Linked DNA regions of Homo sapiens: all the other regions are linked to region 1. The links come from fine-mapping of genetic effects on gene expression. A gene starts in region 1. Each other region holds a variant in brackets. All regions are shown on one strand. Distances are from middle to middle. Region 1 holds the start of PTK2 (protein tyrosine kinase 2). Region 2 overlaps PTK2 (protein tyrosine kinase 2). Region 3 overlaps PTK2 (protein tyrosine kinase 2). Region 4 overlaps PTK2 (protein tyrosine kinase 2). Region 5 has its middle 12 kb from the start of AGO2. Region 6 overlaps PTK2 (protein tyrosine kinase 2). Region 7 holds the start of LOC124902030 (a long non-coding RNA gene).

What was found. PIP is the estimated chance that this variant, and not a neighbour inherited with it, causes the effect.
Region 2: its variant is the best candidate, but not a certain one, in a credible set for the expression of PTK2 in monocytes after LPS (Quach 2016, PIP 0.81).
Region 3: its variant is the best candidate, but not a certain one, in a credible set for the expression of PTK2 in whole blood (TOPMed, PIP 0.89).
Region 4: its variant is the best candidate, but not a certain one, in a credible set for the expression of PTK2 in whole blood (TOPMed, PIP 0.71).
Region 5: its variant is the best candidate, but not a certain one, in a credible set for the expression of PTK2 in whole blood (TOPMed, PIP 0.60).
Region 6: its variant is the best candidate, but not a certain one, in a credible set for the expression of PTK2 in amygdala (GTEx, PIP 0.51).
Region 7: its variant is the best candidate, but not a certain one, in a credible set for the expression of PTK2 in nasal epithelium (TOPMed, PIP 0.83).

Annotation. Positions count from the first base shown.
Region 1 is chr8:140,999,687-141,003,686 of GRCh38, forward strand. It overlaps PTK2 (protein tyrosine kinase 2), which reads right to left and starts at 1,596. Exons shown (of 36, transcript NM_001352702.2): 1 at 1,439-1,596. RefSeq lists silencers at 1,261-1,590, 1,611-2,030.
Region 2 is chr8:140,820,661-140,824,660 of GRCh38, forward strand. The region is part of intron 8 of PTK2 (protein tyrosine kinase 2); the gene reads right to left. Among named protein-coding and RNA genes, the nearest start is that of MIR151A, 90 kb to the left of the region's middle. The variant T/TCA (reference allele first, on the strand shown) is at 1,690.
Region 3 is chr8:140,975,417-140,979,416 of GRCh38, forward strand. All of the region lies in intron 1 of PTK2 (protein tyrosine kinase 2), which reads right to left. Among named protein-coding and RNA genes, the nearest start is that of PTK2, 24 kb to the right of the region's middle. RefSeq lists an enhancer at 884-1,408. The variant T/A (reference allele first, on the strand shown) is at 2,485.
Region 4 is chr8:140,866,573-140,870,572 of GRCh38, forward strand. The region is part of intron 4 of PTK2 (protein tyrosine kinase 2); the gene reads right to left. Among named protein-coding and RNA genes, the nearest start is that of PTK2, 130 kb to the right of the region's middle. The variant T/A (reference allele first, on the strand shown) is at 2,396.
Region 5 is chr8:140,645,291-140,649,290 of GRCh38, forward strand. No RefSeq gene overlaps it. Among named protein-coding and RNA genes, the nearest start is that of AGO2, 12 kb to the left of the region's middle. RefSeq lists an enhancer at 18-1,217. The variant C/T (reference allele first, on the strand shown) is at 1,968.
Region 6 is chr8:140,689,072-140,693,071 of GRCh38, forward strand. All of the region lies in intron 29 of PTK2 (protein tyrosine kinase 2), which reads right to left. Among named protein-coding and RNA genes, the nearest start is that of MIR151A, 42 kb to the right of the region's middle. The variant C/T (reference allele first, on the strand shown) is at 2,306.
Region 7 is chr8:141,036,898-141,040,897 of GRCh38, forward strand. LOC124902030 (a long non-coding RNA gene) reads right to left here and starts at 1,140. Exons shown (of 2, transcript XR_007061121.1): 1 at 808-1,140; 2 at 1-7. RefSeq lists enhancers at 324-948, 949-1,574, 1,575-2,199. The variant C/G (reference allele first, on the strand shown) is at 1,716.

The sequences.
Region 1 (4,000 bases):
ATATGGGACGGAGTGCTCAACTCTCGAAGACATCATTTTCATTACCCGTTTCCCAAATAAAATATTAAGGTTGAGGCTCTGGTATTTCATTTCAAATAGTACTGGTCTGTTTTTCCAGCCATGAAAACGTTTACATTCTAAGTAAAAATCCTAGCGATGGTTAAGTCTTAAATACAAATCCCCAAACTCTTGCACTGCCTTCAGCTTTCAGCTTGAATGTATAACCAGTTCCCATAATTACTACAATATTACTATTATCTTAGTCTCATTGCCAAAAACCCAGCTGCAGGCTAACTATGCAAGAATGAGACACTGTTGAAATGACTCGGAAAAAAAAAAAAAAAGAAACTTTACCCTCACTGAATTTAGCTACAAAATTCTGCAATTAAATGAAACCAATTCACACACACACACACACACACACACACACACACACACACCCCTTCTTCTAAGAAAGAACAGGATGCCGCTACACAAGGAACCCAGAGAGAAATTCGGCAAACAGTTGCGCCTAAGCCACCGCGGCAGAGTCGGGGGCTGGGGGCGGGGAAGAGGAGAAAACTTGGGAAGCACAATGACTCCAGTGAGGACTTCAGTGAGGGCTCCAGGGCTCCCGCCAAGAAGCCCACGGGGCTCTACCAAACTTGAGGGTTTGCGTTCGGGGACACGGCGGGCTTGGGGCTCGGGCACCGGCAGGCCGCTCGGAGCCCACCCTTGGCTGCCCGCGAGGCCGCGCCCGGGGGACGGAGGTCGGGCCGTCGCGAGCCTCCCTCTCGCGTCCGGGCGAACCCTGCCGACGTCCCTGCGATTTCCCTCTTCCTCCTCCTGCCTCTCCCCTTTTGTTTTTCAGGCATTGGGTCCGCTCCGGCGGAGGCCGGCCCGTCCTCCCCGCGCCTCTGTCCGCCCTGCGCGCCCCCAGAGCCCCGGCCTCCTCGTCTTCCTCAGGCCCCTCGGCCTCTCCGCGCGCCCGGCCTTTTCGAAAGCCGCCCCCCCCTTCCTCCTCACGTCTCCCGGACTCCCCACGTCCCCCAGCCTTTCTGTCTTCCCCGAACCCCTTGGCCTCCCCGCGCGCCCCCAAAACCCCCGACCTCCTCGAGCTCCCGGCCTCCCCACGTCCCTCAGCCTCCCAGTCTTCCCCAAGCCTCCCGACCACCCAGCGCCCCGAACCCCCGCCTCCCAGCGCGCCCCCTGACCTCCTTAAGCCTCTCGGCCTCCGCGAGGGCCCCCAACCTCCTCACGGCCACCGGCCTCCCCTCCTCCCAGAACCCGGGCCGGGGGCGCGGGAGGGGCCGGTCTCCGCCGCATCCGCCCCGGGACTGGTTGGGCGGCCCCGCTCTGCCCCTCCGCCCTCAGGGCCGCGGCCCAGCCCACGACCGCTGCACAGAAGGAGCCCGCCCAGCCCCCGACCCGCGCCCCGCGCCCGGCGCCCCGCACTCACTCGGACCGCGGCTCGGCGCCGTGAAGCGAAGGCAGACGACGACGGGGCGGCGCTGGGCGACAGCAGCCGCGCTTCCTCCCACGCCTCACGCCGCGGGCTCACAGTGGTCCGGGACCGGCGGCGGCGGCGGCGGCGCGGGCTCGCGCCCTCGAGGCCGTGCTGCGTCGGCGCGGGCCCGCGCGCGTGCGCGGCAGCCGGCTGAGGCGCGCGTCCTCTCTCGGCAGCGCACGCCCGACCCGGTCTCAGTCCGGAGTTCCCGCCTCTCGGGGGGACTGGGCATGCGCGCCGCCCCCGCGCATGCCCAGCGCGCCGCTAGGCTCTGCTCGCGTAATTTGTCCTGTAGTGACCGCGCCGGGGTTTCGGGGTGGCCCGAGGCTGCGCGCGGGCGTGGCGGCCGGACGAGGAAAGCCCTGGTCTCGGGGGTGGCCGGGGTCGCCCCGCCGAGCGGACATCCTGGGGTCCCACCTGCCTCGCTCTCCGCCAGCGGGATTAGACGGACTTCGGGAAAGTCCTCCCCATCTCCTTCCCTGCCCCCAAATCCCGAAGGGGTCCCCTCTGGAGAACCTCCCTCCTGAGCGGCCCTGCGGCCCCGCCCCCAGAGTTGGACGCCCGCTGTCGGGCACCCGCTGCGGGCCCCGGGCCTTGCAGTGCACTCTCCAGGCACCACACCGACCCTAACGAGCGGTTCCTGGGCCCTTTTTGCAGACAAGGAAACTGAGGCTCAGAGATTCTTTTCATGGCATTATAGCTAAGTTGGGCTGGGCCATTATTTGATTTTGGAAGATGAAAAATCATGAAAGGGACTTAGAAGTCCACTGGAGGTAGACAGGTTACCTAAATGAACGCCAGCAGGGAACGAGCCCTGCAATCCCTCCCGAGGGCTACAGACCTGAGACGGGCTCCAGGAAAAGGAGGGAAGGCTCGCCCCGACACCGACCCGGGCTTCCGCGGTGTGAGCCAGTTTCAGCGAGGAGCTAGTTGGTTATGACCGGAACGTGCCGTAGGTGGGGTGGGGGAAATAGCAAAAGGCGAGGTTGGAGGGATTGAAAAATGCAGACGGCTGCGTGGGGCTTGCTTAGGTGCCTGGAGTTTATTCTTTAGGCAACAGGGAACCTTTGGAGGGCTTTAAGCAGGAAGTGATAACTGATTTGTGTTATTTAAAAAAAAAAAAAAGTCACTCTGGCAACCTTGTGGTCGGAAATGAAACCAGAAGAACCCTCAAGGCTGCAACTTTCATTTTTATGGTGTCATTTTGATGCTAACCACAAGCCAGGAAGCAGGACAGACAGGCACCGAGGCCTTTTGAAAGGTGAACACCCTGAAGCCCAGAGAGGTGACACACGTCATTGCATTAGGAGCTTTTATAAAAGTAAAAATGAAGTAAAATAAAAAGCTTTTGCTTATCAAGATTTTACCATATTTAAATGTTTGGGTTGTATTGTTCTTTAATGAGATGTATTAAGGTTGGTGTTTTTCTGGGTTTTGTTACTTTTTACTACATATGAAATTGTAAGGAATTGCCTCTCCATGCCAGCCTCAGGCCTTTGCGCGTGCTATTTGCTCTGCCTGGAACTTCTTGCTCCTCACTTCGTTCAATACCCTGCTTATATATCACCTCATTGATACAGCCGACCACTTCATATAATAGGAACCACCCACTGCCCTGCTATCCTCACACACAGTCCGCACTTAGTCTGCTCTGTTGTTCTCCAAAGCACCTATTGTTCACCATAGCCCAACACTGTGTTCTTGTTTATTTCTTGATTGTCCGCTCTCTCCACTAGAATCTTAGATTCATTAGAGCACGGGCTTTGTTTTGTTCACTAATAGGTCCTGGCACACAGTAAGTATTTGTCAAGTGAATGAACGAAGCTTTGGGTGATGTGAAGTGAGAGCTTATTATTAAAAGGATAAGAAAAGCATGGGAATTAAAAGAGGAGAGTGGAGGCACAAAGGGACTGCATTAAGGATAACTTTGGGGGAAGGGGCTGCACTTAGCATAGTAGACTAAAAATGGCCATCAATTCTTTGACACTTTTCCCAAGAAGAGGTGGAATTTATTCACCCCTTGAATGTGGATGGGATCTTGTAACTTGCTTTGACCAATGGGATGTGTCACAAGTGACATTGTACAAATTCCAAGCCTAGGCCTCAAGAGGCCATGCTGCTTTCATTTTCCCCCCTTAAGCCCAAGCTAGCCTCACGAGGAGGCCGTGTGGAAGAGAACTGAGGCACCCTGGCCAACAAGGTGCCACCTCCAGACATGTGAGTGAGCTGTACTAGACCACCCAGCCCCTGTGAAGCATACATAAGACCTGGAGAGACTGATGGAAGAACTGCCCAGCTGAATCCAACCCAAATTGCCAAACCACAGAATTGTGAGCCAATAAAATACATGTGGTTTTAAGCCTTTAGGTTTTAGGGTAGTGTGTTACACAATATTGTTTCCTGGACTCTGCCACGATACATTTGAAATTGACGTTCTTGAAGGGCAGCTTTGGTTATTATTATGCTTAGTAAAAGAAGAAATCAGAAAACGGCGGGAAGAAGTGATGCAAAGGA
Region 2 (4,000 bases), 180 kb before region 1:
TTAAGAGTTGCCATTAAACTGAAATGGCAGAAATTGTGAGAGGAGCAGTTTGGTGGGTAAAGGTCAGAAAGAATGCCAGAAGAATACCAGAAATCCAAGTGGAGCTGTCAAGCAGGCCAGTAAGGGCCCAGTGGAGTTCAAGGGGAGGTCCTGGCTGGCCCAGCAGACAGGGAAGATGGATTAGGTGACCTGCTAATCTCAGTGGGTCAGGGACATGGGGAGCAGCCAGGGGCCCAGGTTGAGGTGTGGCTGCTAAGTCAGGTACACCGTAAACTAGGAGGGCATGGCATACTTTGGTGGGGTCATGGAGGTAATAGCCTGTCTGTAGTGGCTTGAAGGTCCTAGTAGGATCCAAGGATTACTGGATCTGGGATACTACAGAAAGTGAGCTGGAAAGACAGGAGCTATGGTCAGAGAGAAGGATACACACAATTAGGGAGGGGGTTCGATTACTGGAAATGAATAAGACCAGAGTGAGAGGTTGAGGTAAGGCAGAGGACAAGATTCCTGAAGACAGGAATTCAATGAGCCAAGATAGTGGAACATGGGAGGATTACCTAAGGCATGTGACTTTTATTTTAAAAAGCTCGCTCTGCTCTTGCACACAGAGGGTTGGGGGAGTGTGTAGGAGTGAAAGCAGAAAGACCAGTCAGGTCACTGTAACAGATCAAGCAAGAAAACACTAGTGGCATGGACCCCAAGGTAGTGGTGAAGAAGAGAAATGGGCACTTTTGGGACATTTGGATGATCATATGCAAGACAACTGGAAAGTAAAGAATCCAGGAAAAGTAGAGTTTTAGATGGAACAAACAGGCAAACATAAGAGGCAGGCTTGGTGAAAAAAATAAAGTCATGTTAACCCTGTACATGTGTTTGACCTTGAAGTCTTCCAACATGAACCATCAAGGAGACATTTGGATCTAAGTCTGGAGCTCAGGAGAGGGCAGCACTGTTGCTAGAAATTTCAGAGCCACCAGCTGAAGTATTTAAATACATGGGACTAGATGGCACCTGCAAATAAAATGAAGACAAAAGAGAAGGCCAAAGCTAAGTAAGCTGACCAATAGTTGGTTTTAACCAGGGCTGAGGTTTTGACAGGTGAGTATGACAGAGTGGAATAAGAGAATTATAGCTGTTTTGAAAAGGATTAATTACAGCTTCACAGAACTTAAACTGAAGAGCAATAAAATGGGTTCAAGGTTAGCAAGGCTTGACTATAAAATGTATCACATGGAAAGTGAGGTGGTCAGCCTCAGATGCTCTATAAACAAAAGTCCGAAAAGCATATTCTTGGTTTGACTCCAGGCTTTCTAAACATTCTCTGCTTATGATCACCTATGTAGGACAGACTCTACAACAGAGCATGCAGATTGGACATGGAGATTTGAGTACTGCTTGTAGCCACCTACATGATGTTTTTCTCCTTATAAATTAACAATATAGTACCTTGGGACTTTGCTGAATATAAAGCAGTCTCTAAGAAGCAGGCCCGCTACACTCTGGACCTAGAACAAATCCACTAAGGAAATTCTACTCTGTGCTTGGCACTTGGCATACACTGCATAATCAGAACAGGTATCTATTCTCAATAAATTCAGAGTACAGCTGGAAAAAGAGCATTCTGATCTTCATTCATGGCTACAGGAGGAACAGTATAATTCTGTGCATATAGTGCTATTAGGCGCTGAT[T/TCA]CACACACACACACACACACACAAACACACACACACTACCAAAAAATGATACCAGAAAAGACATCTGTAGGCCCTTCCGTGGAAATAAACAAAGTCTTCACAATGACCCTTGCAAGGGAGATACTATTTTTCATATATTACTGAGCAAACAGAGACTGAAACATTAGGTAACAACGAGGGGGTACAAGAATTGTGATTCTAATCCAGAACTACTTGATTTCTTTTTACTTGCTATGAGACCAATTCAAACACCTCCTTTTCTAAGATGCTCTGCTTGATAGAAGAAACCAGGAAGAAACAACCACCACATCCCTATGGGTCTCATACTGCTTTGAATGTATTTTTAGACATGGCACTTATATAAGATCCACGTTGGTGATAAGGGAGCATGCACTGCCTTGTTACCCCAAAGAAAAGAGTATAGCCCGCAGCTGAAACTCAATGATGTGCTTTTACAATGAATAATTACATGTCTCTGCCATAACAACTTGGATTCTGGCAAACTCTCAAACAGATAATATGGATGAATAAAATCTAGTTCTATCCTGTGATAAATTAGGTTTCACTTTCTAGTAAGTAAGTGGGAAGACAGTTCAGATTTCTTTAGTTTCAAACTTCTATCATAGAACATGCTGCCTCAATGTACAAATGCTCTGAGTGTAAGAAATGTCTCCCATCTACAAGTATTAATAGAAAATAAGTCCAGCAAAAGCCCTGGAATATAAAAAAATCTCTTTAAGTGTATGATACAATAAATTGGAATATGGTAGCAGTTGCAAGGAACAGTTGTCAACTGAACACAGGGACCAGAACACAATGACAAAACATTTCTATTAACATTAACCAAATGTTGGTATATTCATTCATGACTCTAAGAGGAATATTTCAACTCAGGTAAATACTGACATGCAGTGATCAAAAATTATGTAAAATAGGTACAGAAAAAAAGTCAATTCTCTACTTTGTACCTAATTCCCAACCAGCTGCTGGTTTATATATAAATTATTGGCAATATTATAATATACTGACACCTGCTCATTTGTTCAATGCTTTTTAAAATTAACCTAAAACATTCTATGAAGTAACGGAGATAGAAGTCGAGGAAACAGAATCTGCTCTTGAGGTTAAAATGCATATATATATATACACACCTGCCTACCTGACAGTTCCACTGCAGTTTCTCACAGACATCTAAAACCTGCCACTAAGAGCACTGAGATTTCAGCCGTGGTGGCTTATTGGCCCTACCCGACTGGACCCTAACATATACATCTAACTTGGTTGCAACTCTATCACTCTGAACTTACTCTTTCCTATACCCCTTCCCTTTGACCCCCATAGTCTCCAGGCACTTCTAGTTCACTACTTACACAGCTGAATGCATCACGGGCAGTCCCACCCAGTTCAGATTCTGCTTCAATATTGTCTCTTGACTAGTAGCACTAGACAGCACTTAAGTGTATGGGACAGAAATCTGAGGCCAGGCCCTGTATTTTCTTCTTCCTCCTCCCACATTAGACCAGTAGCTAAGTCCTGTTAGACTTTACGCCCGTAACATTCTTCAAATGTAACCCAACAACTCTCTACCCTCTGCCTCCTTTAAATTCAAGCCCTCCTTGTTTCTCTTGGCCTCTTATTTCTCAGCATCTGATGACTAAGAATCTTAAAAAGAAGTTGTGTGCTGTTCTTCTACAACAGGGATTGAAGCCATCAACCCTTTGCTAAATAAAGTGAGTCAATTTGGTTTGATCCTCATTTTCTCATCCCAAACTCTTAGACATGGAATGTGTGTGGTGGTAAAGAACTCAACTGCTCTCCCCGATAATTTAATCTGCTGGAAAATTTCCAAGTAACTGGGGCAAATGTGTTTGAAAGTAATAACTATGCAATGTTAAGAGACAATCTGGACTCCAATTTTACTGTATTTGTCTCATTCAGCTGAATGTGGGAAAACATGCTGCTTTTTCTGTAGGCGGTGTTACCTTGCTCATCCTACACATTAACAAGCTGAGACCCAAGAAGTGAGAGCAACAAACAACACAACAAACCAGTAAGCTCAAGCAGCTGGAGTAAAGGAAAACGATATCATTCAGAGTTAGTTTCCTATGGACACAGAAACAACTCTCTCATTCTCCACCAACTAAAACTGTTGGCGCCTTTGGCAGGAATATACCCAAGTTCTTATGGTCTGTACTTAAATGCGACTGCCAATGAGGACTGTGAGTTCCAAACCTATGGTGTTCAGTGCTGGACAGAAACTAGAAAATCTCTGCTGTCTGAAACTCCAAAATCAGTTTTTACGAAAAGGATA
Region 3 (4,000 bases), 24 kb before region 1:
TAAAAATATTCAGTTCCACAAAACCCCAGCCTCTCACACCTCCATGCCTTTGCACATGAGTGGAATCCACTTCCCATCTTCCGCTGAAAAATACTTTACAAAGAGGTCACCACATCTAGTCCACAGCCAGTTTTTACATGGTTCCTGGACTAAGAATGATTTTTACATTATTAAAGCGTTGAGGAGAGGGGGGAGGGGGAAGAAAGGAAGAAAAAATTAGAGGAAATGCGATAGGCTGTATGTGTATATGCGACCCCCGAAGGCTGAAGTTTCTACTCTCCGGCCTTTAAGAGGGGAAGTCTGCCGACCCCTGAGGTTGGGCATCACAAGGGACTTGCCCTCCAGATTGCCTGAGCACGCTAAGAGACAACTGCACACATCATGCTGCATGCCAGGGAACTATAACAGTCTCACTCCCCCTCAAGTCTATACCTTCAGGGCTTAATACCGTACCAGGCACAAAACAGTATTTTTTAAATGGCGAACAAATGAATTAACTGAATGAACCAGCTCAAGAACTGGTGAAATCACATTAAATGGAAAGGACCTGTGCCTTTAGTAGTAAAACACTACTTACGTCTGTTAAAGATACTATTAACAACATTAGCACCTTACATTTGTATACCACTCTACACAGTAACTGCACATATAACCTCAAAGGCTAAGACCATAAAAACTACACTTTATAAATAAGGACTTGAGAAGCACAGAAACTAACTTGCCAAAAGTCACATGACTAAAGGCAGAGCCAATATTTGAAGTTGGGTCTTGTTTCTTAGATAAAATGCATTTTCTCTTAAACAGACTACACAACTACAATATCTAGACACTTACACAATACCTCTCTACAAAAATCACAATACCTAGACACTTCAATTACTAATGCCTGAGATTCAGGAGACAGATAAAATTTAATTTCTGAGCCACTATTTAACTGATAATTTTCAAGTTAATGCTACTTTCTGGGGAGAAAAAAATGAAATGGACACCCAAAATAAACACTAGGCTAAAAGGTCCCAGAATAACCACAAGCTAAAAATTTTCTCTTTTCCTTAAGAATCAGTCCTTGGGAAAGCAACACAAAATTAAACAGCTTAATTAACAAATGCCACTGAAAGGAAAGCAGCTGCAGTCACAGCATGAACTCCTTGCCTGTCAGCTAAGCTAAAACAAACTGGCAGTTGAGGCAGTCACTTGTCTTTAAGCTTCAGTTTGGGTAGAACAGAATCCAAAAGCTGATAATGTACATTAACACCTCAACTTCAGCCAGAAAACAACACAAGTGTTTCCAGAGGCAGAAAATAGAAACTCTATTAACTTTTTAAAAAGCCTAATAATGTTAGTCTAATCTTTTTTTCATAACTAAGGTATAACTTAGGCATAGCTGGAGTTTAAGTGGCTAGGTACCTAAAAGTTTCTGAGTTGAGACCAAGATTTTAGCCAAATTCTACTACAATATAGGTCTATTTAAGACAACATTAATTTCAAAGAATTGGTAACATACAGAACACATTTTCTGACTACAATCCAATTCTAGAAATGTCACAAGATACAATGAAAAAAAGCTCATTTGTTTGTAATTTATCAAACACTTTAAAATAAATCATGAATCATCAAAGGAATCAGTAGAATTTACAAAATATGTCTAAATATTAAACTTCTTTATTAAATAGAACAATAAATGCTTTATGGGCCAGGTGTGGTGGCTCCTGCCTGTAAATCCAGCACTTTGGGAGGCCAAGGCGGGAAGACTGCTTAAGCCCAGGAGCTAGAGACCAAGTTTGGCAACATAGTGGGACCCTATCTCTAAAGAAAATTTAAAAATTAGCCAGGTGTGGTAATGTGTACACCTGCTAGTCCCAGAAACTCAGAAGGCTGAAGCAGGAGGATCGCTTGAACCTGGGAGGTCAAGACTGCAGTGTGCAGCATGGGCGCGGTAGCTCACGTCTGTAATCCCAGCACTTTGGGAGGCCAAAGTGGGCAGATCACGAGGTCAGGAGATCGAGACCATCCTGGCCAACACGGTGAAACCCCATCTCTACTAAAAATACAAAAAATAGCTGGGCATGGTGGTGCACACCTGTAGTCCCAGCTACTCAGGAGGCTGAGGCAGGAGAACTGCTTGCACCCAGGAGGCGGAGGTTGCAGTGAGACGAGACAGCACCACTCCCCTCCAGCCTGGGCGACAGAGCAAGACTGTCCAAAAAAAAAAAAATACTGCAGTGAGCTGTGATCGTCCAACTGGACTCCAGCCTAAGTGACAGAATGAGACTTTGCCTCAAAATAATAATAATAAATGCTTTATGAACTAAATAAAAATACTTCACATCAAAACTTAGCCCTTGGATAAAGAGAGATTCCTTAAAAAAATCAAAACAATAAAAAGTACTCATCATAAAGGAAAAAAGAAATAAAGCTTATGACATTAAAATTAAGAACTTTAGTTCCCTACAGTAACCAAAACAGCATGGTACTGGTACCAAA[T/A]CAGAGATATAGATCAATGGAACAGAACAGAGCCCTCAGAAATAATGCCGCATGCATATCTACAACTATCTGATCTTTGACAAATCTGACAAAAACAAGAAATGGGGAAAGGATTCCCTATTTAATAAATGGTGCTGGGAAAACTGGCTAGCCATATGTAGAAAGCTGAATCTGGATCCCTTCCTTACACCTTATACAAAAATTAACTCAACATGGATTAAAGACTTAAATGTTAGACCTAAAACCATAAAAACCCTAGAAGAAAACCTAGGCAATACCATTCAGGACATAGGCATGGGCAAGGACTTCATGTCTAAAACACCAAAAGCAATGGCAACAAAAGCCAAAACAGACAAATGGGATCTAATTAAATTAAAGAGCTTCTGCACAGCAAAAGAAACTATCATCAGAGTGAACAGGCAACCTACAGAATGGGAGAAAATTTTTGCAATCTACTCATCTGACAAAGGGCTAATATCCAGAATCTACAATGAACTCAAACAAATTTACAAGAAAAAAATCAAATGACCCCATCAACAAGTGGGCAAAGGATATGAACAGACACTTCTCAAAAGAAGACATTTATGCAGCCAAGAGACACATGAAAAAATGCTCATCATCACTGGCCATCAGAGAAATGCAAATCAAAACCACAATGAGATACCATCTCACACCAGTTAGAATGGCAATCATTAAAAAGTCAGGAAACAACAGGTGCTGGAGAGGATGTGGAGAAATAGGAACACTTTTACACTGTTGGTGGGACTGTAAACTAGTTCAACCATTGTGGAAGTCAGTGTGGTGATTCCTCAGGGATCTAGAACCAGAAATACCATTTGACCCAGCCATCCCATTACTGGGTATATACCCAAAGGACTATAAATCATGCTGCTATAAAGACACATGCACACATGTTTATTGCGGCACTATTCACAACAGCAGAGACTTGGAACCAACCCAAATGTCCATCAGTGATAGACTGGATTAAGATAATGTGGCACACATACACCATGGAATACTATGCAGCCATAAAAAAGGATGAGTTCATGTCCTTTGTAGGGACATGGATGAAGCTGGAAACCATCATTCTCAGCAAACTATCGCAAGGACAAAAAAACCAAACACCCCATGTTCTCACTCATATGTGGGAATTGAACAATGAGAACACATGGACACAGGAAGGGGAACATCACACACCGGGGCCTGTTGTGGGGTGGGGGGAGGGGGGAGGGATAGCATTAGGAGATATACTTAATGTTAAATGACAAGTTAATGGGTGCAGCACACCAACATGGCACATGTATACATATGTAACAAACCTGCACGTTGTGCACATGTACCCTAAACCTTAAAGTATTAAAAAAAAGAAAAAAAAAAAGAACTTTAGCTCCAAGACACCTCACAGGTAAAAAAAACAAACCACAAACTGGAAGAAAATATTCACAACACATAATGATAAAGGATTGCAATCCACACATAGAAAGAACAGCTACAAGTCAATTAAAAAAAAAAAAAG
Region 4 (4,000 bases), 130 kb before region 1:
TGTTACAAGAAATAAATGAGTCAGTAAACACAAAACACCCAGAACAGTCACTGGCATATCATAATAAATGGTTTCTAAGGTTTATTGTTAGTGATAACTCGATAACTGTTTATTCCAGCACAGATCATGTCTCAGGTACAGTTGGAGTGGTTGGAAATTCAACAGTGAATAACAGGCAAAGTGCTAACTCCCAAAAAGTTTGCATTTTTGTGGCAGAAGTCAGACAGCAAATACACAAATATATGTGAGATGGCAGTCAATGTCATAAAAACAAATCAAAGGGGAATAACAAATGATTAAGTATTATTTTTATAAAGGGTAGTCAATGATGGACACTCTGATATGATGATATCTGAACAAAGATCTAAATAAAGGAGATGAGGAAGGGAGTTATACAGTTATATGCAGAGAAAAAGTGTTCTAGTCAGGTGGAACAGACTATGAAAAGGCCCTGCAGCTGGAGGATGCTTGGGAAGGCAAGTGTAGCTGGGGCAGGCTGCATGAGGGCAGTGAGTAGAAATGAAGCTTCACACAGACCCTTACCAAGTCATGATAGTCGGGTTCTTTCTCAATGAGAAAGCAAGTCAATGGCATGCTGTGCACAGAGAAATGACATCACAGGGTTTTCATTTTTCATGATTAGGGTATACACCATGCAGAAGAGACAATGGGGACCAAAGGAAGAAGGAGGGAGACTAGGAGGAGACAGCAAGATTCTGGGTGAGAAATAATAGCCAGGTTAATATTCACCTTATGTTCACAGATTGGCAAGAGAATTTTAGGGAATTACATAATCTTCCCTAGATCCCACAGCTATTTAGAGGTAGGCATGGGATTCCTCTCCAGCAAGAACATGCATGAATATTTAAAGGCACAATGATACGAAGAAAAGGCACCTATGTCTTAAAAACAGAAAAGAACTTAACTCAAGCCTGCTTATGTGAAGTTAGACAAGGCCTTTAGATCATGTTAAGAATTTTGGTGGGAGCTAAACAATGAGAACACATCCACATAAAGCAGGAATTAAGACACTGGGGACTAACAAGAGTGGTGGATGGGAGGAGGGAGAGGATCAGAAAAATACCTGGTTGATGAAATAATCTGTAAACCAAACCCCTGTGACACGTAGTTTACCTATGTAACAAATCTGCCCATGTACCCTTGAACCTAAAACGAAAGTTAAAAAGAACTTTGTTCCCTGCTTCAACACACTACAGTCTAGCATATTTCACACAAAACTCTACTGAAACTTTCCTCAGTCCTTAAACTGCAATGCCTGACACCATGTTCTCGTGCCCCACTAGAGCTGACATCCCCACTCTGCTCTTACACGAAACTCGTCAGTTTCTTTACATGTCTGTTTGCCATTTTAAGAGTCTAGTTGCATCCTGATACATATTTCCACTTCCCTGCTATACGCCTCTCCATGGATTCCCAACAGCAGCTAAATACTATGCCCCAAATAAAATCATTCTTTCGTTCCTACTCTTAGGCAATATATTCCTATTCATGCCATTGTCATCCAGCTTCCTCAGTCTTACCACCAAATATGAGCACTAAGACACCCAAAAGTAACCAACTGAGGATAAGGAGGGAGAGGGTATGTTTTTGAAAAGCTGAGCTAGATTAAGAATATGATAGTCCTGATACTGAGAAGGGTTAGCTAGCTAGTCCGTGTTTAGTGAAGTAAACAAAGCATTAACTTCACACAACACAGATGCCCTCATAAAAAAAATGTGGTGTGAACAGTCTGTTCTTACAATAGACTTCCAATTTTTTTAAAAAAGGGAAGAATGGAAATAGAAATTTATCATTTAGCAAAAATTACAGTAATAATCACTGCAAGACAGAATCATCAATGAATGCTAAGATCAGTGGGTGAAAGTGAGAAACAGAATGTTGCAGTATCTATGTATCTTCCCAGAAGATATTTCTTAATTATAAAGGGGAAACAGTAACCTTGTAGTGGAGAAACCTGGCTTCCATTACCTTAACCAAATGATCCAAGTTAGAACCACCTGTAAATTAAGTTGTGCCATCATTATGGACTTCCTGATACAATGCAATGAGAAAGGTATGACATCTTGACTGCAGCCGTTTTGCCAAAAACGCAAAACCTTAATCATAAAAACAATACCAAACTCAAATTGAAGAACACAATACAAATAACCAGTGAGTATTCTTCAAAAATGTAAAGGTCATAATGACACAGATTAAGGAACTGTCTCAGATTAGAGAAGACTTAAGGAGACATGACCGTAATGTGGTATTCTGAATTGATCCTCAACCAGAAAAGGAACGGTAAGTGGAATAATTGGGAAATGTGAATAAGTCATATAGATTTGTTACTAGGACTGTATCAATGTTAATCTCCTGGTTTTACTAGCTATATTAT[T/A]TAAGATTTTAATATTTAGGGAAACTGGCTGAAGGGTACACAGGATTTCTGTGTACTATTTTGCAACTTTTGATATTATATTGAGAATTTTTAAATTCCCACATATACAAGACTGACCCTTTTGTAGCTGTGGTGACAAACACCCGCCCCCGCCCCCCCAACCCATACACACACAAAACCAGTTTTAAATCAGCTTGGTCAATAAATATGAGTTGTACAGCCACAGACCCACTTGAAACTAATTTTAAAGCGCCTGATATCTTGCCTCAATGAACACGCATCTGCAAGTCAACTAACTGACTGGCAGCTTCTTCTTTAATTTAGCCAAACAGGAACTAACTCTAAAGAACATGCTTCTAAAGATGAACAGTCTAACTTGGGTAACCATACATCTAAAATTGATGCCAACCCATTTCCACCTCTGAAAGTTGGCCAGCTTCTCAACTTCATACTTCCAAAAACCTTGTATAGAATCAGTAGTGTGTTCTGCTCAGGGAGACTGTGACTGATCAGCACAGCTTTCCCTTAACAGCATCATAAAGCCACTTTTTTCTGATTCAGATAATGAATGATCACGATGTCAGACTTGGACAATACATAAGTAGTAAAACCTTTTTTTTTTAAGCAAAAAAATGATTATGACAAAAGTCAGGATATCAGTTACCTCCGGAAGCAAAGAATAGAGAATGAAATTGGGAATGGGCACACCTCTAATTTAATGGGCTACAATTCATCAATTCATACACAAAGACAATAAATATGTTGCTGATAGGAAACACATAAACAAAGAAAGAGGGGCACTAGGTACTGGTAACAGAAAGAATAGATGAAGATATTATAATCATGAACTTATATGTACTTAACAACATAGCCTTAAAATCATAAAGAATCACAAGACAGAATTACTAAAAAAAAAAAGTAAATCGACAATTACAGTTGAATACTTTCTTTGAGATGAGCATGTAGCAAAACATATATGTGTATAATATATACAATTAAATACATTAAATGTCACTTTTCAAGCAAAGTATGAACAATATAATCTTCAAATAACATGACGATAAGCTTGAAAAAATGTACACAAACACACCCGCCCTCTTTATAATAACAGAACATACCTTCTTTTCAAAAGGAATGAAAACATCAACTAAGTACTAAGGCACAAAGAATCATCTCAACATAGTTAAAAAAAGTCAACACCATAAAATTGTTATGCTTCCTATAATGCAACAAAATAAAATCAATAACCAATAATCTTTTCTTTTATAAGCACATATGGCAGAAACCTAAACAATACACTTAATCACCCCTTGGTTTCTTCCAAAAATCTTGAAACAAATATCAAAACACTGATTGATAATAAAACACTATCTAACAAAGTTGTGAGACATAGACACAACTAAAATGACCATTTATAGTAAAATACATTTATCAGTAAACATGAATGAATGAAAACAAGTGAGCTAAGTGCTCAATTTAGAAATAAGTGGTAAACAGAAATAATAAAATATAACCCACATAATAGCAATATATTATAGAGTAAGAATTAACTTAGTAAAGATGACACAAAGGCTTTGCAGAGAAGACATCAGAAGGCATCAAAGA
Region 5 (4,000 bases), 350 kb before region 1:
TTCTAATACCTAACACAATGTAAAATGCCATGTAGTAAATAATCATACTGTATTGTTTAGAGAATAATGACAAGAAAAATGTCTGTACACCTTCAGTACAGAGATAACCATCATAGGCCTGACTACATTTTCCATCCACAGTTGGTTGACTCTGAGGGCATGGAGGGCTGACTGTACCTGAGCCACCTCTTCTTTAATATTTCACATCACTCTTTTCCTCACAGGACCCATTTTCCATTTTAATTCTTCCACATATTTTTATCCTAAGGAGATATTTTTATGTTTGAAAATCTTATTGATTATGCTATATACTTGTCTACAACAAAAAGTATATATAAATTGAAATCTGAAATTTTTATTTCCTGTGAGACCAAGTGTTAGAAAACATTCTTCTGGGCTTACTTATCATTACAACTGTCAGAACACAACTAATCAAACACAAATATATTACAAAGTTTGAATAATAATTATTAGTCATGAAAGTGTCACTCATTAGTCATACATTTTTGTTGGAAATAATCTCTTAAGGAAAATAGTGGACTTTTCTTTTTCTAATTCCCAGACTCAGGAAGAACCGGATGACCCATTGCTGGAGTCAGGGCTCTTCAACAATTCTTTTCCCGTTCCCCATGTTTGTGAATGTCAGTGCTTACAGCTGCGGTCCCAGGAAGCGTGGGTGAGAATGGAAGGAAATTCTGTTACAGTGACTCAGTGCTCTGACCCCTCCCAGGATATCCTCCAGAACTCGCATGCTGCTCTCCTACCGACAGTCCTGGGTGAGAACCCACAGCTGGCGACTCAGCCATCCTGCCTCAGGGTGATGGAAGCTACAACTGAAGTCACCTGGCTTTCAAAAGGTTCTTTTGTGGCCGGGCGCGGTGGCTCACGCCTGTAATCCCAGCACTTTGGGAGGCTGAGGCGGGCGGATCAGTTGAGGTCAGGAGTTCGAGACAAGCCTGGCTAACACAGTAAAACCCCGTCTGTACTGAAAATACAAAAAATTAGCCGGGTGTGGTGGCAGGTGCCTGTAGTCCCAGCTACTTGGGAGGCTGAGGCAGGAGAATGGTGTGAACCCAGGAGGCGGAGCTTGCAGTGAGCCAAGATCGCGCCACTGCACTCCAGCCTGGGCGACAGAGCGAGACTCCATCTCAAAAAAAAAAAAAAAAAAAGGATCTTTTGTGACCCTAATTGAGTCTGGGTGTCTACAGAAAGGTGTGATAGATGAGATTACCATCCAAAAGTCATCGCTCCCTTGCCCTTTACAGTTGATTTCTTACCCCAGTGGCGCTGAGCTCAACCGTGTGACTGTCAACGGTCGACAGGATGTCAGCAGTCCTGCCCTCAGAGGCTTACATGCAGTTGCCCCGTCTGGTTGCCAGGTTGGTCTCAGCCAGGTGGCCTAGAGAAACCTTCCTCCCTGCATCTTCCTCAGCCTGGTCGCTGAGGGCATGTGAAGCCAGGTCCATCTGGAGGCAGAGCCTCCCAGCCACACGCAGCTGCGCCAGCTAATGCACAGAGGTGGAGTGAGGGGAACACGTGTTGTTACACAGCAGAAGCTGAGTCAAAATCCCCAAGGGGCCTTTTAAAACGTGGAAGTTGACAAATTGGTGCCAAAATGTAAATGTAACTGCAAGTGAGTTAGAAGAGCCAAAAATAAGTATCTTGGAGAAAAAGAACAAAATTGGATGATTTGCAATAGCCACTTTCAAGACTGACTACGCTTGGTTTCAGGAGTCATTATAAGGCTGCAGTAATCAAGACAATGTGGCATAGACATAAGAACAGATGAGAACAGTGGAACAGAATAGCAAGTCTAGAAATAAATCCACACATAAATGGCCAATAGGTTTTTGACCAAGGTACCAAGGCAAGACAATGGAGAAAGATTTTTTTCAACAAATGGTGCTGGAATAATTGGATTTCCGTATGGAAAATAATGAACTTCAACATCTACCTCACATCCTTCA[C/T]ACTAATTCAAAATAAATCATAGACCTAAATATAAAACTAATATGGCGGGGCGTAGTAGCTTATGCCTGTAATCCCAGCACTTTGGGAGGCCCAGGCAGGAGGATTGCTTGAGCCCAGAAGTTCAAGACCAGCCTGGCAACGTGGCAAAACCTCATCTCTATAGAAAATATAAAAATTAGACGGGCTTGGTGGCATACACCTAGATCCTAGTAGTTCATGGCTGCAGTGAGCTCTGATTATGCTACTGCACTCCGGCTTGGTGACAGAGTGAGACCCTGTCTCAAGAAGGAAAAAAAAAAAGGGAAAAGAAAGTCCCAGTTACTTGGGAGGCTGAGGTAGGAGGATCGCCTGAGCTCGGGAGGCTGAGGTAGGAGGATCGCTCGAGCTCGGGAGGCTGAGGTAGGAGGATCGCTCGAGCTCGGGAGGCTGAGGGAGGATCGCTCGAGCTCGGGAGGCTGAGGTAGGAGGATCGCTTGAGCTTGAGGGGTCGAAGCTGCAGTGAGCTGAGAATGCACCACTGCGCTCCAACCTAGGTGACAGAGTGGCACCTTGTCTCAAAAACAAATGAACAAACAAACAACCTTAAAAATTAATGCTATATAGCTTTTAGAGGAAAATATGGTAAATATCATGCAACCTTGGGGCAGGCAAAGATGTCTTAGAGAAGATGCAAAAAGCACTAAGTATTTTAAAAAGTATTAATTAGAACTTCATTCAAATTAAGAACTATTGCTCATCAAAAGATACTGTTAAGAAAATAAAAAGACAAGCCACGGACTGAGAGAGAATATTTGCAATACATACAGCTGACAAAGGACTTATATCCAGAATATATAAAGAATGACTACAAATCAATAATAAAGTAAAAAACTTGATTTTTAAAAACCAGCAAAAGGCCACGTGGAGTGGCTCACGCCTATAATCCCAGCTACTTGGGAGGCTGAAGTAAGAGGATTGTTTGAGCTCAGCAGTTCAAGACCAGCCTGGACAACACAGTGAGACTTGCTGTAAAATAAATAAATAAATACATAAAATAATTTTTAAAAAATGAGTAATAGCCTGGGTGACATGGCAAAACTGCATCTCTACAAAAAATACAAAAATGAGCCGGATGTGGTGGTGCATGCCTGCAGTCCCAGTTACTGGGGAGGCTGAGGTGGGAGAATCACCTGAGCCCAGGAAGTGGAGCTGGCAGTGAGCCATGATTGAACCACTGCACGCCAGCCTGGGTGACAGAATGAGACCCTGTCTCAATAAATTAAATAATTTAAAAAAATAGCCAAAAGATTTGAACAGACCTTCATAAAAGCAAACAGTTGGCCAGTTGTAGTGGGTCATGCCTGTAATCCCAACATTTTAGGGGGCTGAGACAAGAGGATGCCTGGCTGCAGTGAGCTCGGATCGTGCCACTGCATTCCAGCCTGGGTGACAGGGTGAGACCCTGTCTCAGGAAAAAAAAAAAAAAAAAAAAAAAAAAGAGAGAAAAGAAATAAAAACATACCTACCCAAAAAGACTTGTATGCAAATGTTTATAGCCACTTTATTCATTAAGCCCCGAACTGGAAACAATCAGATATCTATCAATAGGAGAATGGTAAACGAACTGTAGTCTATGTACCCAATAGAATACTATTCAGCAATTAAAAAAAAATTACAGGCCAGGTGCGGTGCTCATGCCTGTAATCCCAGCACTTTGGGAGGCCGAGGCGAGTGGATCACAAGGTCAGGAGTTCAAGACCAGCCTGGCCAACATGGTGAAACTCTGTCTCTACTAAAACTACCAAAAATAGCCAGGTGCAGTGGCAGGTGCCTGTAATCCCAGCTACTGGGGAGACTGAGGCAGGAGAATCACTTGAACCCAAGAGGCAGAGGTTGCAGTGAGCTGAGATCATGCCACTGCACTCCAGCCTGGGCTACAGAGTGAGACTCCATCTCAAACAAAACAAAACAAAGAAAACAACAAACACACCACATGGATGCATCCCAAAAACATTGTGTTAAGTGAAAGAAGCTAGACACAAAAAAGCACACA
Region 6 (4,000 bases), 310 kb before region 1:
GGTAAGATAGACATGAATAGACAGAAAGGAAACCAAGCAAACACACGTAATACATTGATTCCAACTGGCAACTGAAGGGGAACTCACTGGGGAGGTCCTATTCCATGTAGCAGAACTCACAGATCCTATTCCATGGAATGCTGAGGTTCTGCCACTGCCTGAATGAAGAGGCAGCTTTGTGGGGCCCAAACATCCCAGATATGCTTAAGAAAAAATATTCCAAAACACAATGGACTTTGAGAAAAAGTACCTGAGAAGACGAGACTCCAGGTTGACAATTCACAGAACATTACTCAATGTAAATATCAAGGTCAGGAAAGATTTCGGGAAGACCCAGGAACTGTTCAAGCTTAAAGGAAACTCAAGAGATGTGATAACTAAATATAACTCATGATCCAGGACTTTTTTCTAGAAAGGGCATTCTGTGGACAACTGGTAAAATATGAATAGTCCATTGATTAGCTAACAGTATTGTATTATTGTTAATTTCCTGACATTGGTTAACTCAGCTATGGTTATTTAAGAGAACATCCTTATTTTTAGGAAATTCACATTGAACTATTTAAGAGTTAAAAAGCAGGATATCTGGTATTTACTTCCAAATGGTTCAGAAAAAATGGTATGTACAAATATGCAAAGCAAATGAGGTCAAATGTTAACAACTGGAGACTCTAGGTAAAGGGAACATGGGAATTCTTTGTACCATTCTTGTAACTTTAAAAAACTCTGAAACTATCCTTTCCTCTTCTGCCCATTCACTTGAGGGACCAGCTGGGAGCTGGTTCTGCTTAGGGGTTCTGTTGAAGGGCTCTAAACAGAGAGTGGAGGTGATTAGGTTTGACTCTACTGTAGCAGAAAGGACAAGTTTTTATTTTCATTTTTTATTTATTTATTTTTTTGAGATGGAGTCTCCCTCTGTCTCCCAGGCTGGAGTGCAGTGGCATGACCTCAGCTCACTGCAAGCTCTGCCTCCCGGGTTCATGCCATTCTCCTGCCTCAGCCTTCTGAGTAGCTGGGACTACAGGCGTCCGCCACCACGCCCGGCTAATTTTTTGTATTTTCAGTAGAGATGGGGTTTCACTGGGTTAGCCAGGATGGTCTCGATCACCTGACCTCATGATCTGCCCGCCTCGGCCTCCCAAAGTGCTGGGATTACAGGCGTGAGCCACCGCGCCAGGCCAACAGTTTCTATTTTTAAGAGACAGGGTCTTGATCTGCCGCCCAGGTCAGAGTGCAGCGACTATTCACAGGCACAATCATAGTGCATTACAGCCTCGAACTCCTGGCCTCAAGCAATCATCCGCCTCAGTTTCTGGAGTAGCTGGGACTATACATGCACGCCACCACGCCCAGTTAGAGCTATAGTCTAAGAAAACAAAAGACCCACCAGGCCCAACTTACGATGTGGTCATTTAATAGTTACATGATTTTGGTTATTTTAAAATATTGTATACCTCATTTGTCAATAATCTAACAAAAGAAACATGCACTTACTGTAGAAAAATTAAGATACTGCAAAAATAGATGAAAAAATTACAAATCACTCAACCTTACCATTTGGAAGTAATTATCATTAGTTATTATGGAGTAATTAAAATGTAAAAGTAATTATCATTAGTTAATACTGTGGTGTAAATGTATGTTTACAAACATGGAACCACAACATATGATTCTACAGCCTTCACATAACATTTATATAGGGCAAACTGACAAAACAATGTTTAAGGCTGCACAACGTTCCACTGCATGATTATCATCATAAAATAGACAATGGTAGTGAAGGGTGGGAGCTGTGGCACCAGGTGGCCTGGGTTCTAATGAGGATCCAGTCCTTACAAGCTGTGTGACCTGGGCCTCAATTTCTTCATTTCTAAAATGGAACAGTAATTGTAACCAACACATAGGATTGTTAGGAGGATGAAATGAGTTAATATTTGCAAAGTACTAAGTTGGTGCCACACAAGAGTTAAAATAAATAGTTCTTTTATTGTTGGATATTAGGGTCATTTTCAAAATCCCTCATAAATAGGCTGTAGATGAACACCTTTGTATACAAATCTTTGACTAAGTCCCTGATTATTTCCCTGGGACAGATTTCTTTTCTTCTTCTTTTAGAGATGGTTGGGGGTGGGGGGTCTCACTATGTTATCCAGGCTGGTCTTAAACTCCTGTGCTCAAGTGATCTTCCTGTCTCTGGAGCAGATTTCTAAGAAAGGAATTACTAAGTCAAAGAGTTTGAACATTTGAAAAATCTTGGTATAAGTTTCCAAACTGCTCAAGGCTGTCCTGATTTTCATCTATGTAG[C/T]AATATGTGATAGCATTTCTCTCACTGTACCCTAACACCACTGTATTATCATTTTAAAACTCTCAACCAATTCATAAAGAAAATACTGTATAATATATTGTTGTAATTTGCTCCTCTCCTCCTCCCTTTCCCCAAATAGTTGACCATTTTTGTTTCTTATCATGAGATGCTAAGTTCCATGAAGACAGAGGCTATGAAGCTGTCTGCCTCACCGCTGCGTCTCTGTTACCTGCTAGAACACCGGACAAACAGGTGGAGGAAATGAATGCCCTGTGCATTTTTCTAGTGAACTGATTGTCCATGCCTCTTTGGACAAGGCATATAACCTCTCTAGGCCCAGTTCCTCACCTGTAAAATAGGCAGAATAATACCTCAGTCAGTCATTATCAGAATGAAAGAAGTGCCTGGCAGCATTGTGCACATAGATGTGTAGTAAATATTTGCTGAAGGAATGCTTCAATTAATATCCAAGGCACAAGAGATATGTTATAGACGAGGAACTTGACTTAGAAAGATTTAGTTGCTTGGGGTAACACAGCTCTTAAACAGTGGAGGTGGGCTTCAATCAGTCAACAGATAATAAGAACCTTCTACAGGCAGGAAATATTTACTGTTTTACTTAAACAAAAAATGCAACTCATATTTTTGCCTATAGAATAAGGTATTGTTTCATGTGTTTACATGAATTAATCTATTTTTATTTCCATATACATTTCATGAAATGACTTTCTTTAATGCATAATTCCCTAATGTGGTATTTTCCTAAAGACAGGATTTTAATTTTAAAATGAGAAAGGCTTATCCATATAAAATCTACTTGTGTTCTGTGAATGAAATAAATACTTGAGCTTTTTCTTTTCATAGAGCATACACGGACCTCCTGAATGAAAGATGAGTGCCTATTGGGAACTGAAGAGCAATACAGCCAAAGACAGCCAATCAGAAAGAATAGATTCTCAGCCAGGTGCAGTGGCTAACACCTGTAATCCCAGCACTATGGGAGGCCGAGGTGGGTGGATCACCTGAGGTCAGGAGTTCAAGACCAGCCTGGCCAACATGGTGAAACCCCATCTCTACTAAAAATACAAAAATTAGCCGGGCATGGTGGCAGGCACCTGCAGTCCCAGCTAGTCGGGAGGCTGAAGCAGGAGAATCGCTTAAACCCGGGAGGCGGAGGTTGCAGTGTGCCAAGATTGCGCCATTTCACTCCAGCCTGGGGGACAAGAGTAAGACTTCGTCTCAAAACAAACAAAAACAAACAAGCCAAAAAAAAAAAACAGTTCGGCTTAGCTACAGTCTCTACTTTCATGTGGGTATGGCTCTAGAAAACTTCAAATTTAAGGTTTATAGCTCAGTCTTTTCTCCTTTCACTATACTGTATTGCTTTCAAATCTGGAATCTGGTATGAGGGAAAAAATAGGAGAGCTGTTGGCCTTGCTGCGTAGCAGAAGCAGGGACAGCAGCCTGGCTTCAGACAGACAGCCTCTTGCCACTGCTCTTTAGTTCCCCGTCTCGGCATTCATCTTTCATTCAGACTGACTGGATCTGCTATGTGAGGGAAAAATGCTCACATATTTCTTTCTCAAAACACAAAGTAGGCTTTATATAGATAGGGCTTTCTCATTTAAAATTAAAATCCTGTTTTAAGCATAGTATCACATTAGAAAATTATTGTGCATGCAGTAATAAAAAAAA
Region 7 (4,000 bases), 37 kb after region 1:
AGATCTCCTGGGGGACACAATTCAGACTGTTACACATGGGGACAATGATCGGACCCCACCTCACCTGGGAGGACAGCTGGCTGCTCTGCAACTGCAGAGATGGGAGGGCCCTACAAAGAGCCCACCCATCACTCCACAGCTACCCGTGCTCCCTCTTTTTTTTTTTTTTGAGAAAGAGTCTTGCTCTGTTGCCCACCTCGCAGGTTCAAATGATTCTCGTGCCTCAGCCTCCTAAGTGGCTGGGACTACAGGCGTGCACCATCATGCCCAGCTAATTTTTGTATTTTTTTGTAGAGATGGGGCCGTGATGACCAGGCTGGTCTCGAACTCCTGACCTCCCGTGACCCACTCGCCTCAGCCTCCCAAAGTGCTGGGATTCCCGGAGTGAGCCACCGACTACACCCAGTCAGTTGGCAGCAAGACCAAGAGCTCCTGGGGACAGGCGCATCTTCCACCCCAGCTTCACCCCCACCTGTGGAGCCTCCACCGTTTGCCCCTCTGCTTCCAGCCTTCATCTTCCCCTCCCTCCCTCTGACTGGTCCTGAGTAAGTAGTTCTCAGTCTTCCCCCCTTCTCCCCGTTTCCCCTGCACTCCTCTTCCTGGCCTCCCCCTTGGCCTGGCTCCAAGCTCCAAGCAGAGGGTGACAGGGAAGCGGCTGGGAAGGCGCCCTTTCCTGAGGCCCCTCGCAATGGAGATGAGCTCTGGGCCGGGACTTCACCAGGGTCTCCTCCTCTGTCTGTGCACTTGGCAGTCCATCTTTCTGGAAAAGACCCCTCCACACACACACACACCCAGAAACCCACCCACCTGCTGGTTCTGGCATCTCGTCCCATTCCTGGCTTGGTTACCACCTGCCCTAGCCCGTCACTCTAGATCTCAGCCTCTATTTGGGTCCTTCAGGACATTTGTTACTGCCATAGGGACGCCTCTGCCCCCTCCTCGGGTTTCCTTGGAGGCAGGCTGACTCCACGGGTGGGGGCAGAACAGCACTGGTCCCTCCCCGTCACTCCCTGGGGAGAGGGAGTCTGAGGAGTCCGGGAAGCCCAGCCTGCCTGTGGCCCTTGGGATGGCTCCCCGTGGCCAGCTCTCCCCTAGTGGGCACCGCCCCTGTTTGGCCCTGCTCGGCCCCTTCCTGGGATGGTTATGTTTAATTCAGGAGGAAGGAGCAAGAGCCCATCTGGTTATGAGTCAGAACAACTCCAGCAGCTTCACATTTCCAGCACGGAGCTGACACTTCAGCCCTTACCACCTGCTGATTCTGTTTCCTAATTAATTCCAATTGCAGAGGTGAGGGGGTGAGATGAATCAACACCTTCAAATACCCCACACTCGGATTTCATGGTGTTTTGTTTTTATTTGCCTCTGCTGGTTTATTTTTGTTGGTTTTCCCTAGGAAGGCAGTGAAGTACCTGAGGGCAAGCCTGGGTCTGGGTCTTGCAATCCTATCCTCAGTGCCTAGATGCCCAGTGAACACTGAATTCATCATTGTCCCCCTTTTACAGAGAGGGCTGTATGTCACACAGCGGGTACACGGGGAGCCGGGGTTTAAAGGAGTGTTTTCATGACCCTAATCCCCTGGCCGCTGACCTCCAGGCTCAGAGCCTGACTCATGTAGAATATGCCAGGCCCTTAGTGGCCTGTGGGCTGGCTTTGTGCCCAGAACCAGGGACGTGAGTATCCAGAGCTCACTTCCCCGCTGCTCTCCTCCTCCCCAG[C/G]CCCTTCTTGGCTTGCTCCCGCAGGAAGCCCTCCCTCAGGTATCATTTCCTACAGAGGAAATCTCCTTTGTCCCTGGAAGTGCAAATCTGGCTGTGAGAGTGGCAGGCCTCTTGGGGGCTATTGTTTGGCACTTCCTTCTTGGCAGTGGGCCTTGGGCTCCTGAACCCCTCTGCTGCCTGGCTGTCCAGGGTCTGAGTGCTCCCAGAGGCCCCCCAGGCTGGAAGAGCCAGTTAGTCAGTTAGATAACTATGACTTGGTTCCTGCCTTCAAGGAGGTAAGAGTGTGATGAAAGACCTCAAGCCAAAACCACCCAGAACCATCCAGAACCAACCAGAATCCCCAACCAAGCCCTTCCCAAACTCATCACCCACAGGGATTGTGAAAAATAATAAAACAATTACAGTTGTTGTTTTAACTGTGGTAAAATATGTGTAACGTAAAATTTACCATCTTCATCATTTTTAGGTGTACATTTCAGTGGCATTAAGTACATTCCTGGTGTTGTACGCACATCGCCACCATCCATTTCCAGAACGATTTCATCTTCCCAAACTGAAACTCCATCCCCACTTTAAACACTAACTCCCCTTCCTTCCTCTCCACAGTCCCTGGCACCCACTGTTCTGCTTTCTGTCTCCAAGAATGTGACTCCTCCAGGCACCTCATGTGAGTGGACTCATACAGCATCTGTCCTTTCCTAGCCGGCTTAATTCAAAAGCATAATGTCCTCAAGGTTCATTCATGTGGTAGCGTGGACAGAATTTTCATACTTTTTAAGGCTGAATCATGTTTTGTTTGATATATTCTACATTTTGTTGATCCATTCATCTGTAGATGGAAACCTGGGTTGCTTCCACCTTTGCGCTATTGTGAATTATGCTGCCATGAACATGGGTGTGCAAATATCTGTGAGAGTCCCTTTTTCAGTTTTGTGGGATATGAACCAAGAAGCGGGGTTGCTGGATCATATGGTAGTTCTATTTTGAGTTTTTGAGGAACCACCGTACTGCTTTCCACAGCAGCCACACCACCTGCCACTCCCTGCAACAGTGCACAAAGATTCGAATTTCTTTCTCTTTTTTGAGACAGGGTCTCGCTCTGTCACCCAGGCTCAAGCGCAGTGGTGCAATCACAGCTCACTGCAGCCTCGACCTCTGAGGCTCAAGCAGGCCTCTCAACTCAGCCTCCTGAGTAGCTGGGACCACAGGTGTGCATCACTACGGCCAGCTATCTTTTTTGTATTTTTAGTAGAGATGGGGTCTCACCATGTTGCCCAGGCTGGTCTTGAACTCCTCAGCTCAAGGGATCTACCCACCTCAGCCTCCCAAGGTTCTGGAATTACAGGCGTGAGCCACTTGGCCTGGCAGAGATTCCAGTTTCCCTACATCCTAGCCAGCACTCACTTTTCTCCTTTGATAGTAGCCTTCCTAATGGGCCCGACCTGGCATCTCACTGTGGATTTGGTTTGCATTTCCCTGATGACTAATGATGCTGAGCATCTTTTTTGTGTTTTTTGGCCACTCGCACATCTTCTTTGGAGAAATGTCTTAACCAATATGGGGTCTCATCCTAGCACTCAGGACTTGCCCTGGATTCTCCTGGCTCTGCCCTTGGGACATGATCTGTGCTCGGCTTGGTCAAGGCCCCACAGCCCATCCTTCTCTGCTCCAATGCACCCCACCCACCGGGTCTCCTGGCCAGGAAAAAACACAGCCCTCCCGACTCCTGCCATCCAGCTGGCTCCACCCAGATCCCTCAAATCCTCTCTGAGCCTGGAGTTTTGCCCCCAGGTTGCCCCCTTGCCGTCCCCTAAAGAGTCCTGCTCTATGGCCAGCCCTGTGCCTGGCTAGCAGCTGCCTGTACACATCCTCCTGAATCATGCCACTCTCATGCCCAACACCAGTGTCTGCTCCTGGATTTCCCACTGCTTGGCCCTTCCTGTACCCTGATGGAAGGCGATTAGGAGGTTATTGCAGGGTTGTCTCTGCCTGGGGCCTTTTCTTTTTTTTTGAGACAGAGTTTCACTCTTGTTGCCCAGGCTGGAGTGCAATGGCGCAATCTTGTCTCACTGCAACCTCCGCTTCCTGGGTTCAAGCGATTCCCCTGTCTCAGCCTCCTGAGTAGCTGGGACTACAGGCACATGCCACCACGCCCGGCTAATTTTTGTACTTTTAATAGAGATGGGGTTTCATCATATTGGTCAGGCTGGTCTCAAACGCCTGACTTCAGGTGATCCGCCTGCCTTGGCCTCCCAAAGTGCTGGGATTACAGGTGTGAGCCACTG